Linked DNA regions of Homo sapiens. The protein of the gene in region 1 purifies or fractionates together with the protein of each later gene. This does not show direct contact. Each region holds a gene or a part of one and is shown in the gene's direction. Other genes may lie near its edges.

Region 1 (3,601 bases):
CAGCTCAGGATGGAGCTGGGATTATGAGGCAAGCTCCAGGTGCTGAGGCCAGCTGCTTGCCACTGGTGTCTTGCGGACATGTTGAATTTGAAGTGACCTTGGCCTCTAAGCAGAAGTGTGCTCTAAGAGGCTAAAAAGATGGTCTGGCACCCAGGTGAAAGGAGAAAGCAAGAGGTGCCCATTTGCAGAGGCTGGAAGTGGAGTCAGAGGAATGGTCAGAGGAGCCCTGAGGAGATGCTGTCGGGAGAAAGAACCTCCAGAGCCTAGAAAGATCTGGCAGCTTCCTGCAGAGGAGACATGGAAGGGAAAATTGGGTAAAATGTGCTAGCATTCAGCATGGTATAAAATGGAGAAGAAATCGGAAAAACAAATAGCTTTTTAACTTAGAAAAAGTAATTGCTCTCTGAGAATTCCAGGAAAAGAATTTTTGTGAACATGGTGGTCATAAACGAATTATAAACAGTTACTGTGGGCTAAGCACAGATCTGTTACAGACTGTGAAGGCCAGTTCAGGAGGTACAGTGCCCAGCTGCAAGAAAGTACAAGTTTAAAAGCACAAAGATACCAGAAGGCTGGAAAAGTAACTTAAGCTGTGAGTGAATCCTAGGAATCACTCCCATGCAAAGTATCGGGCCACCTTGAAAAGCACAGAGACTCTTACTGAGTTTATATTAGATGTTAATAATTTGTTTTCTTAAAATAATTTTTGTAGAGGCCTTTGTAAACAGTACAGGTGGTAAAAGTCAAATGAGACATTTTCATAAAATAGAAAGAAGGAAGGCTATGTTGGATGAATTCCTGCCCAGAATCCTCAGAGTACATTTGGAGAATGAGAGGGAGAAAAATAATCATATTTTAAATCTTAAATAAAATGTTTTTGATATGTCACATAGGCTTAAGGTAATGCCCTTTTCTGTGCATAATATACAGATATACGATGCAGCGAACTCCTTCTAATGACTTGGTAATTTTCTTCCTTAATCTTTTTTTCTGATGATAGAAAATGCTGTGTTTTTTCCCCTCGGTGAACACCATTGTGGACCGAGTACTGTTCTTAGCTTGTGACTCACTTCCTTGAGAGAGAAAGATAGTGGTATGTCTTTGGAGATGAGCACTATCATGATTTGGCTTCAGAAAATACATGAAACATAAGTGCTGTTATCCTAGAGAAGATTAAGACAAGAATTTAAGCACATAAACTATAGTAGTTAAGAGGATTTTAACACAAAAAATTATTAAAAGGACTTACTCTATTCCTTGATATATTCAAAAATCATTTATTTTCATCTGACTTTGCCATATAAGTCCTGCATGAAATATACTTTTGGAACTGCACAGTTCATTTTGGAGAACTCAGACTTAAAATCTGCTAGAGAAATTTCAGATAAACTAATAGAATTCCTAATCAGAGGGCCGCTCAGAACCATGACTGTCTAGATATTAGAATGGTAATTTTTTTTGTTTTTAATAATTAATTGAACTATTTTCAGACTAATTTGTTCTCTGCTTGCCTTAACTTTAATGAGAATTTTACTTTCCATCTGTGTGAAATTTGACTTATATTACATTCATCAGATTATTCACTTTTATGGGACTATTTGTATTTTAGCCAACTAACATTTTTTATTTTAGCTGGTTATGGTCCTAGTTCTACCAAATAAAGGCCATGATGAGTTCCATCCCTAGGAACAGGATGCTCTTATAAATCCTTTTAAATTTTACTTCCAGCCTGGAGAACAGCTCCCTCCAGAGATGACTGTGGCAAGATCTTCGGTCAAAGAGACCTCCAGAGAAGGCACCTCTTCCTTCCATACACGCCAGAAGTCTGAGGTATGTCACAATAAAATATGCCTGTAAACATTTGTTCAACATCATTACTGCCTAGCTTTTAAAATGTATTAATACCCAGTCTCCCACAAATAAGTTGAAGTGGCTTATAAAGTAAGTAGTTTTCCTTGTGGCATAATTCTGAGTTTTCTTTCAAAAAGATCATTAAGTCAATTATAGATTGATTAGGTACGGTTCTAAATTTGGGCCAGGTGGCTCACACATGTAATCCCAGCACTTTGGGAGGCTGAGGTGGGAGGATTGCTTGTGTCCAGGAGTTCAAGACCAGCCTGGGCAACATAGCAAGACCCCATCTCTACAAAAAGTTTAAAAAATTAGCTGGGTGTAGCAGCGTGTGCCTGTAGTCCCAGCTACTCGGGAGGCTGAGGCAGGAGGATTGCTTGAACTGGGGCAGTCAAGGCTACAGTAAGCCATGATCCTACTACTGCACTACAGCCTGGGCAATAGAGTGAGACCCTGTCTCAAGAAAAAAGTCATAGGCAATATTGTCATCAATGTGTGGCTTAACTTTTATAAATTTCTTTCCTGCCTCAGGGTGGAGTGTATCATGACCCACACTCTGATGATGGCACAGCCCCCAAAGAAAATAGACACCTATACAATGATCCTGTGCCAAGGAGAGTTGGTAGCTTTTACAGAGGTAAGCCCACCCCCGGCATTCAACAGGTTCCCCTCTCCTCCCTCTCTCACTTTATGTGCACACTGCTTTCACCGACTCAGGCCAGCGGCCTTCTCACCTACACTGTCGCCTTCCAGCGGTTCTCCCTGCCTCTGCTCCTGCTAAGTCAGGCCCTCCTGGCTTATGAATTGGCCTCCTTAGGTAGCCTCTTAACTGGTCTCCCTATCTCCAAGGTACCCATCAATATAGAGACTAGAGTGATCCTTCTGAAGCTGTGTTCTGACCATACCACTCATTTTGTTCTGTCAAGCCATAACATACTTATTGATGTTACCTGTGTGTCTGGCACTGTTCTGGCTTAGAACTTGTTGGTGAACAAGATAGTCAAAGATCTTCACCATCACGGAACTCACTTCCTCGGGAGGAGAGATGGACACTAAACATAATAATTATATAGAGCAGTAAAAGATATTAAGTGCTACAAGGGGGGAAAAAATAGAGCAAGGCATCCCATTGCCCACCCCACCCCACCCTACTCCTAATCCCCTATCACTCACCTGTTGAGAGTCTTTTGGTGGCTTCCCATTGGCATCAGGACAAAATCTGAATTCTCTAGGATGTCATTCCAGACTTCCCATGATCTGGCCCTTGCCATGCTCTCCAGCCACTTTCTCCCCCACCCCCCAGGTCTCTCTCGTACCCAGCCTATGGGACTGCACAGGCTGTGCCCTCCTCTGGCCTGTAATGTACTCTTCCTCCTGCTGGAACAGCTTGTTTCTGTCCCTTTCTTTAAGGTCCTCTTCAGTATAATATCTTCCCACAGTTTGTTCCAGATGGACTGAAACATTTTCTTCTCCGTTCTGTCTGTCGTACCTTGCCTGTAACTCTGATGTAACACTGACCACATTGCACTGATTCTTTGTCTGAGTTCTCTCTCACAAGGTTGTGAGACATTCAGTTCTCTTCGTGTTCTCTTCTTTTTATTCTCATTGACTAGTACACTGCCTCGCACAGTTTCATAAATATTTGTCAATTGAATTAAAGAAAAATTTCAAGTGTACTTGCACGGGCTAAAATGTACTTTGTTATTTAGCAGACAACTAAAACAGATGCTTTTGGGGTTGTACAAACTTA
Region 2 (3,601 bases), on another chromosome or scaffold:
ACTGCACTCCTAACCTGGGCAACAGAGTGAGACCCTGTCTCTAAAGAAACAAAAAATACCAAAAAAATTGAAAGTTTTTTTTTTTTTGAGATGGAGTCTTGCTCTGTTGCCCACGCTGGAGAGCAATGGCACGATCTCGGCTCACTGCAACCTCTGCCTTCTGAGTTCAAGCAATTCTCCTGCCTCAGCCTCCCAAGTAGCTCAGATTACAGGCATGTGCTACCACACCCAGCTAATGTTTTGTATTTTTAGTAGAGACGGGGTTTCAACATGTTGGCCAGGCTGGTCTCAAACTCCCGACCTCAGATGATCCGCCCACCTCAGTCTCCCAAAGTGCTGGGATTACAGGCATGAGCCACCACACTTGGCCAAAAATAATGTTTTTTAATAATGACTCTAATTTTTTTTTTTTCCTTTTTTGAGACAGAGTCTCACTCTGTTGCCTAGGCTGAAGTGCAGTGGCACCATCTCGGCTCCCTGCAACCTCTGCCTCCTGGGCTCAAGCAATTCTCCTGCCTCAGCCACTGGAATAGCTGGGATTACAGGCATGTGCTACCAAGCCCAGCTAATTTTTGTATTTTTAGTAGAGACCAGGTTTCGCCATGTTGGCCAGGCTGGTCTCGAACTCCTGGCCACAAGTGATCCACCTGCCTTGGCCTCCCAAAGTGTTGGGATTACAGGCGTGAGCCACCACACTTGGCTGACTCTGTAAATTATTTAATAAATTTTATTTTGCATTTAAGGTTATGTAACGAATTTGAGAATAAAGTTAATGTTAAAGTGGGTAAATTATTAGAAACAGAAACCTAATTTAACCTGTGACCTTACTTTTACAGGTGAAAATTTTATGAATCAGATAGACACAGAGTTTAAAGACAAGTTAATCTATAGATTAATTATGAAATAGTAAGTGTAGCCTTAATAATGAATATAAAATTGAGAACTGGACCAAAAAGTAGATAATACTGTAATTATTTAGTCCAGTAAATGTTCAAAGAACAAAGAATGAGGATAGAACAAAACAAAGTATTTTATCTATAAAACAATTAGTGAGGTTGGAAAAGGAAATTGACAAATCTTTTTTTTCTTTTTATTTTTTTTGAGATGGAGTCTCGCTCTGTCACCCAGGCTGGAGTGCAGTGGCACGATCTCGACTCACTGCAACCTCCGCCTCCCAAGTTCACACCATTCTCCTGCCTCAGCTTCCCGAGTAGCTGGAACTACAGGTGCCCGCCACCACGCCTGGCTAATTTTTTGTATTTTTAGTAGAGACAGGGTTTCACTGTGTTAGCCAGGATGGTCTCGATCTCCTGACCTCGTGATCTGCCCGCTTCGGCCTCCCAAAGTGCTGGGATTACAGGCGTCAGCCACTGCGCCCGGCCAACAAATCTTTTTTTTATATTAGGAGAAAAAAGTGGGGCTTGGCAAGTAAGATTCTGATATAAGAACAATTCTGTTAAAGAAAAAATGATCATGGTGAAATTGAGTAGATAAAATTGTCTGCAAAAACAGCGTAATTTCCAACCTGGCCAACATCGTGAAACCCGTTCTGTACTAAAAATACAAAAATTAGCCGGACACGGTGGCACGTGCCTGTAATTCCACCTACTCGGGAGGCAGAGACAGGAGAATTGCTTGAACCCGGGAGGCGGAGGTTGCAGTGAGCCAAGATGGCGCCACTGCATTCCAGCCTGGGCGACAGAGGGAGACTCTGTCTCGAAAAAAACAAAAAACACAGAAAAAAAACCCAACAAAAACCAGCATAACTGGAAGAGACTACAGAGTGGTCTTAAATATTAGGTGTAAGTCATTTTTTAATTTTTTGACGTTGCTCTATTTCATTTATTCAAATATTTATTGAGCACCTACTTTATGTCAGACATTGTTCTGGATACTAGGGGAAAACAGATGCTATCTCAACCTTTCCTGCAGCTCACATTCATTTCAACTCATATTTTTTAATTAATCAAAAGCATATGTGATCTATTCTGGTGTGGAAAAGAAAACATTTTTGAAAAGGAAAAAAAAGCATATGTGAAAACCTACATATATCCTATGATCTGGCAGTTCTACTCCTAGTTACTTACCCGAGAGAAATGAGAAAATACATTTACCAAAAACCTTGTACAAAAATGTTTATACTAGCTTTATTTGTTGGTGGTGAGTTATTATTATTTTTTTTTTTTGAGTCAGTGTCTCACTCTGTGGCCCAGGCTGGAGTGCAATGGCACAATCGCGGCTCACTGCAGCCTCAACCTCCCAGGTTCAAGTGTTCCTCCCACCTCAGTCTCCCAAGTAGCTCGAACTACAGGCACATGCTACCACATCTGGCTAATTTTTTAATTTATTTGTAGAGATAGGGTTTCACCATGTTGCTTAGGCTGGTCTTGAACTCCTGGGCTCAAGCGATCCTCCCATCCAGCCTCCCAAAGTGCTGGGATTACAAGTGTGAGCCACCATACCCAGCCTATACTAATTTTATTTGTAATAGCCAAAAACTGGAAACACCTCAAATGTCCATCAAAAAGGAAATTGATAAATAATGGAATGCTACTTAGCAAGAAAGATGAATAAACCACTGATACATTCAGTCATATTATGCTACATGGCAGAAGCTGGTCATAAAAAGTTATCTACTGTATGATACCATTTATATGAAATTCTAGAACAGACAAAACTAACCTGTGGTGATAGAATTCAGATCAGTGGTTGCTTCCGGAGATGAAAATGGGGATTGACTGGGAAGGGGCTAGAGGAGACTTTCTGGGATGTTAACAGTGTTCTGTATCTTAAATAGCCTAATTCAGACTTCTTTTATAAAGCAGAAAGTATATTGGGGATTATTACCATAGAGGTGGTTTGCTAACTAAGCATTATCTTTTCCTTATGAACAGTGACTTTGAATATAGATTGTATTAAATATTTTATTCATTTGGCAATCTACACATAGAATTTCTTTCTTTCTTTTTTTTTTTTTTTTGAGACAAAGTCTCGCTCTTGTCCCCCAGGCTGGAGTGCAATGGTATGATCTCAGCTCACTGCAACCTCCACCTCCCGGGTTCAAGCGATTCTCTTGCCTCAGCCTCTCGAGTAGCTGGGATTACAGGAGCCTACCACCACTCCCGGCTAATTTTTGTATTTTTAGTAGAGACGGGATTTCACCATGTTTGCCAGGATGGTCTCGAACTCCTCACCTCAGGTGATCCGCCCCCCTCGGCCTTCCAAAGTGCTGGGATTACAGGCATGAGCCACCGTGTGCCCTGCCCTTTTTTTTTTTTTTTTTTTTCCGAGATGGAGTCTCGCTCTGTTGCCCAGGCTGGAGTGCAGTGGCCAGTCTCGGCTCACTGCAACCTCCGCCTGCCACATTCTCCTGTCTCAGCTTCCCTAGTAGCTAGGATTACAGGCATCTGCCACCACGCCTGGCTAATTTTTGTATTTTTAGTAGAGACGGGGTTTCACCACATTGGCCAGGCTGGTCTCAGAACTCCTGATGTCTCAAGTGATCCACCCGCCTCGGCCTCCCGAAGTGCTGGGATTAGAGGCATGAGCCACTGCACCTGGCCTACATACAGAATTTCTTTATTTATTATTGTTATTTTTT

What was found. The genes of interacting proteins can lie anywhere in the genome.
Region 2: the proteins of CDKL5 (region 1) and SAR1B purify together in Homo sapiens (affinity purification with mass spectrometry, with the first as the bait; one large-scale study listed by BioGRID). This does not show direct contact.

Annotation. Positions count from the first base shown.
Region 1 is NC_000023.11:18,607,083-18,610,683, forward strand, and holds part of CDKL5 (cyclin-dependent kinase-like 5), read left to right. Parts: intron 1-1,728; coding exon 1,729-1,830; intron 1,831-2,382; coding exon 2,383-2,488; intron 2,489-3,601. UniProt on the Homo sapiens protein: Mediates phosphorylation of MECP2. May regulate ciliogenesis.
Region 2 is NC_000005.10:134,615,817-134,619,417, reverse strand, and holds part of SAR1B (small COPII coat GTPase SAR1B), read left to right. Parts: intron 1-3,601. UniProt on the Homo sapiens protein: Small GTPase that cycles between an active GTP-bound and an inactive GDP-bound state and mainly functions in vesicle-mediated endoplasmic reticulum (ER) to Golgi transport.